Regions from separate parts of the Homo sapiens genome. Here region 2 is linked to region 1. Evidence: fine-mapped expression QTL. A gene starts in region 1. The other region holds a variant in brackets. All regions are shown on one strand. Distances are from middle to middle.

Region 1 (2,979 bases):
TCAGCCTCCCGAGTAGCTGGGATTACAGGCGCGCGCCACCAGGCCTGGCTCATGTTTGTAATTTTAGTAGAGACGGGGTTTCGCCGTGTTGGCCAGGCTGGTCTTGAATTCCTGACCTCAGGTGGTCCACCTGCGTCGGCCTCCCAAAGTGCTGGGATTACCGGGGTGAGCCACCACGCCCGGCCCAAAGCAGGGCACTTCTGAAAAAGGAGGCAATATTAGTAATTATGCCAGGGCAGCAGGCATAAATCAAAGCTGGCCCCCCACCCTTCCAGAACTGAGACAGGACCCAGGAGTCTGGTTTCCCATCAGGCCTCTTATCTGAACGAGAAGCTCTGCGAGGGCAGAACTGCTGTGCCTATATAGAGCTGGCTTATTTCTGGAGGGCTCAAATCTACTTGGAGCAATGCTCATGCCACTGTGAGATGATCACGGCTAACCGATTCAGCACTTAGGAAGCGCCAGGTATTGCGCTGAGGACTTCACATGCATCACCTGAGTTAATTCTCACCAAACCTTTATGAGGTAGGCGGATTTATTATCTTCCACTGAGGAAACTAAAATTTAAATTGGTTAACTCCTTCAAGGCCACACATTTTGGGTGGAGGAGCAGGGATTGAAATCAGATGAGGATCATGAACCCTCGTTCTCAATTACTACTCATATCGGTGCCTCCGTTTTTCTTGAGCGTCCGCCTGCCTGCCCCCACGCTGGCGTGCAGCCAGGACCATGGACATCTGAGAGGCTACTCAGCCGGGGTACCTACAGCCCCTGGCTCCACACAAGCGCCGGTCTGACAGCAGGTGGCAAGCTTTTCCTCTTCTCAAGCTAGCACTGGAAGGGATGCTTGCTGGGGAGACCGGAGATGGGTGGAGCTACCACTCGGACGCCTGCAGGCTCCTACCAAAAAGAATCCTGCAGGGAGCCGGATGAGGAGCACCTCACAGCTGCCAGTTCCCTGCCAGGCTACCCGCTGTAGCTGGTTTGAGGGCTCAGTGAGGCTTTGAACTGCAACTAATGGCCACAGATGTCAATGTTGGAAAGGCCCTACAATGCATTTAGTTGATTTCCCAACTCTGCCGAAAGCCATCTCTATTACTTGCCCCCGAAGGCTAGTTTAAGTTGCTTCTACTCAAGAGCATTTACAGCTTGGGTTCGATGTATATGTAGCCCGGGCATGGGGCAGGGCTTCTTAACATTTGGACACCACGCAGCACAAAGGCCCAGAGAGGGAAAGAGACTGGCTGGAAGAGGCAGAGCCGCGCGGGTGCCAGGACCCAGGTCCTTGCTACGTCCGGAGCCTACGTCACCACGATGCCTCCCCTGGGCCGGCGGCAGAACCCGAGACCCCCGCAGGTTCTAAGACAGCCCCCACGCCCCCCAGTGCGCACGCTCAGTCCAACCCCGCCGCGCACCGCCCACCGCGAACATCCGGCTCCTGCGTGTGTGCTCGAGGGGGAAACTGAGGCGGGGACGTGCCAGTGAATTCATTCCTTCCTCAGTCCACCCGCAGGCCTACAAAGCTGTCTCCCCTTCCTCAGCGCCACAAGGAACAGCAGGGACGGATGGGAAGAAGGGGAGGGGGCCGAAAGCAAGCTGGGTGCGAGGAGCCAGCCGACCCTGCCACACTCAAGATGGCGGCGCGGCCGCGGCGAGGTCCCTCAGAGGCGGTACCAGCGCATGCGCAGCGCGGAGTCCCGGCCCGGGACACAAGATGGCGGCAGCGGCGCTGGGGAGGGCGAGGCGGAGGCGGCAAAACGGGCGGTCGAGCAGAACGTGTAGCCGCGTCCCCTCCAGTCCGCTCCGGGCAGGTAAGAGTCCCAGGAAGCCATGGTCCCGCAGCGAGCCGCGCCAGGGTCTGGGGATCCGAAGCTGGGGGGCGGCGGCCCCTCCGGCGCTTTCTGCTCGGGACTGCCGCTTGCCCTGTCTCTGTTGCCGCCGCCATCTTAGACCCGCGGGTGGGCGGCCGCGCCGGTGGCCGAAGTGAGGGAGGTGGGCCCGGAGAGCCCCAGCGGAGCGGGCTCTAGGGCCCCTCCGCTGCTGCCGCCGCCACCGCCTTTGTGTCGGGCTCCGACTCTGAGTCGCCTCAGCCCGGGGGCGGGAGCGCGCGGCGGGGCGGGGGGCGGAGCCCGAGAGATGGGCCGGCGCGCGCGCGCGCGCCAAACAGCCCACCCTCGCTGGGGTAGGGGGAGGGGAAGGTGCGCGCGCGCGCGCGCGCTGGAGCTCGCCTCTCGCCTTCGTGCGCCGTCGCGCCTGCGTACTTTGTTCGCCCTTTGACTCCTCCCTACTGGGCCGGAGAATTCTGATTGGTACATTGCGGAGATGGTCCCGCCCCACGTGCCTCCAATCCCGGACTCGGACTCTGGCTTCTGGTGGGTTTTTCTGGTTGCGCAGATAGAGTTGTTTATCCTTGAGCAGCGGTAATTCTCAAACTGCGGTATGCGTGGGGGTCGGGAAGCCACAGGATAAATAAAGACGTTAACTTAAGAGCAGTTATGTCTTACTGGGAGCGTACAATGCTGGACTCTACATATAACGGTCGAGTGATTCCGGTTTATAAGCCGGAAAGCAGAAGGGCCCGGAATCCGGGTCTGTCCAACCCAGGGGCTGGTACTTCGGCCACAGACCTGCTGCGCTCAAGTCACATAGGAAATTAAAAATGGTTTTAATTGCAAAAAATGGGTACATTTTTTCAAATAGTGTGAAAAAATGAGTCATCCTGTCTCCCAGTCACTCTTACGGTGCGTTTTAAAAATACAAATTCTTGTGTGCCTCACCTCCGTATTTATTTCTGGCTTCTGAGATGCGCAGTGAGGCACAGGAGTCTGATTTTTTTTTTTTTTTTACAAACTCCAAGATGATTCTGATGCACAGCTGGCTTTGGAAATACTGCAGTGTCCCCATTTAGCCTCACACTAAGCTGTGCCGCTTGTGCGTATTCTGCAAAGTTCATCTACCCGGTGCATCAATATCACAGGA
Region 2 (2,500 bases), 28 kb after region 1:
TAAGAACTTGTGTTTCTCTGTCTCAGGTGCACTCTCAGCCCTGTGAGAGATGAGTAGGATCTGGAGTCCAGAAGATCTTGGATCATTTACTGAACTCCTTTAGGTACACAATTTCCTTCAATCCCTTCAACAACTGTCCCCGTTTGATGAGAAACTAAAGCTCACAAGAGGTAAGAGGCTGAGCTGGGGACCTCAAGGCCTGGTACTGTCCTGTTCTAAGCCAAATGAACTGGGGTGAACTGCCTTTCTGCTCATGCCTGTAGTGTGCAGCAAATGGGGCTGGCTCAGAGCAGGAGCACGGTAAGTGGGAACCATGGTTATCCCGGGCCTCCACTTCCCCACCCAACCTGGCCTCTCTTGCCCAGGTCCCTCCCACCCCCACACTGACCGGTCCCGGCTGTGCACAGCGGCGTGCCGAATGACGTCCTTCCGGTAGACACTGGTGTAGCTGCACTCGTCACACTTGTAGGGCTTGCTGCCCACGTGGTTGAACATGTGCTCCTGGGAGACAGACAAAAGGATGGTGGGCTGGGGCTTGGCCTCCTCTCCCATCCCCGTCCCCACCATGCCTGTGGCCACAGTCTTAGGGTTGCTGCGGGAGCAGCTCACAGAACACAGGCATGTGGACAACACACCCCGACGCAAGGGTCAAAACCTAGGAAGGCCCGGGGACTGTCCCCAGCGAGAGCACCCACTCTGTGCCAGGCTCTGTGCTGGCTCACAACTTGACAAAGAAGGAACCTGAGTCTCAGGGTGGAGGGACCTTGCGATGGCAGAGCTTGGAGCTGAAGCCAGGCAGCATGGCGCCGCAGCCTCCACCTCTCCCACTGCGTCACGAGACATCTTCTCTGCAGAACCCACATAACAGCCCACAGCACAGCGTGCACAGAGCACAGGGGCTCGCTCTGACCACCGTGCCCGGAAGTACCCTCTCCCACAGCTGCCAACTTGCACATTGGCCAGGCCGAGCCACAGTTTCCTGGGGGTCAGTAGAATGGGACTATGGACACCTACGACCTCATTGGGCTGCAATAAGGATTTAATTATCCAGTTACTGCATAAAAGGCTCAGGGCTGCTGCAGGCCACATGGTAGCTTGTGTTAAGGAGAAAAAGGAACCGTTTTTTTTTTTTT[GT/G]TTGTTTGTTTTTTTGAGACAGAGTTTCGCTCTTGTTGCCCAGGCTGGAGTGCAATGGTGTGATCTTGGCTCACTGCAACCTCTGCCTCCCGGGTTCAAGCGATTCTCCTGCCTCAGCATCCCAAGTAGTTGGGATTACAGGCATGCACCACCATGCCCAGCTAATTTTGTATTTTTAGTAGAGATGGGGTTTCTCCATGTTGGCCAAGCTGGTCTCAAACTCCTGACCTCAGGTGATCCACCTGCCTCAGCCTCGCAAAGTGCTGGGATTACAGGAGCAAGCCACTGCACCTGGCCTAAAAGGAACCCTTTTCTTGAGACACATGACTGCCATCTGCTGGAAATCTTTCTAACACATGGAATCAGATGAAAACAGTTTTATGGCGTCTGTGGTGGTGAAGATATGCTGCCACTGTGCACTGTGCCGCCTGCAAAACCGCCTGTGGCAGCCCTTCCCAGCCCCTCCCCACATTCCCGCAAGCTCTGAGGAGCTGAGCGTTCTTCGGTACGCCAGTGAGCCAGACACGCGTTCTGAAGAGCAGCAGGAGAGCGTGACCCAGAATGCTCTGTGACTCCATTCTCCCTCAGTGGCACCAGCTGGCCTCTGCTTGCCTTCTTCACCCTCCCATGAGCCCCAAGCCTCTTTGGCTCCCGCACCTTGAGCGAGGACCAGCGGCGGGAACGATAGCTGCACTGCAGGCACTTGAAGAGCTGGGGATCGCCAGCCTCATGGGAGTTGACGTGGAAGCGCAGGTCCTCGTGGGACAGAAAGCGAGAACCACAGATGCGGCACAGGAAGGGCCTCAAAAGTGGTTTGGGCGACTTGTAATAGTACCTGCAGGATGAGAGTGTGGCGGAAAGGTCTGGTGGGGTTGGTGGCTTAACCACATGCATGCCCCACCCTCACCTCTGCTCCACATACTTGCGGTATTTCTTGCCTAGGAAGCGCCTGGAAGGTCGACCTCGGCGCCGGGGCAGAGTGTCATGCTCATCCGGGCAGGAGGGGGCTGCGTTCTCTGCATCTGACTGGCTCACACCAGCTTCCACAGGGGTCCTGCTCACCTTGCCCATGGCCACCAGGTGTCCTGGGCCTGAGGAGCTGGGAGCCTCGGGATCCTGTGGCTCTGGAGGGCTCTGTCCACTCTGGGAACTCACTAGAGGCTCTCCTTCCACACCTGCCACGGACATGCCAGGTCACAAGCCAGCCACTGACACACCAGGACAGACGTGGACAAGTGGGCCAGAGGCCAGCCAAAATATCCTCCCACCCACTCATCACAGACCACTGATGGGTGCATTGAGTCACATGACACAGACAGCCTGTGGTTAGAGGGCAGCATGGATACTACCGCCCAACAGCCGACAT

Alleles and levels. Alleles are on the strand shown, and positions count from the first base shown. SD is a standard deviation of normalised expression in the study named.
As copies of G replace GT in region 2, the expression in monocytes after LPS of the gene that starts at base 1,690 in region 1 goes down (large effect, 0.93 SD a copy in Quach 2016).

Evidence for each region. PIP is the estimated chance that this variant, and not a neighbour inherited with it, causes the effect.
Region 2: its variant is the best candidate, but not a certain one, in a credible set for the expression of PCIF1 in monocytes after LPS (Quach 2016, PIP 0.66).

Annotation. Positions count from the first base shown.
Region 1 is chr20:45,932,994-45,935,972 of GRCh38, forward strand. It overlaps PCIF1 (phosphorylated CTD interacting factor 1), which reads left to right and starts at 1,690. Exons shown (of 17, transcript NM_022104.4): 1 at 1,690-1,811. LOC107985388 (pre-mRNA-splicing factor cwc22-like) reads right to left here and starts at 2,078. Exons shown (of 1, transcript NR_171669.1): 1 at 501-2,078. RefSeq lists enhancers at 1-308, 591-740, 1,000-1,691, 1,692-2,382 and a silencer at 2,011-2,220.
Region 2 is chr20:45,961,682-45,964,181 of GRCh38, forward strand. ZNF335 (zinc finger protein 335) reads right to left here. Exons shown (of 28, transcript NM_022095.4): 8 at 2,057-2,309; 9 at 1,792-1,969; 10 at 389-501. Among named protein-coding and RNA genes, the nearest start is that of ZNF335, 9.3 kb to the right of the region's middle. The variant GT/G (reference allele first, on the strand shown) is at 1,134.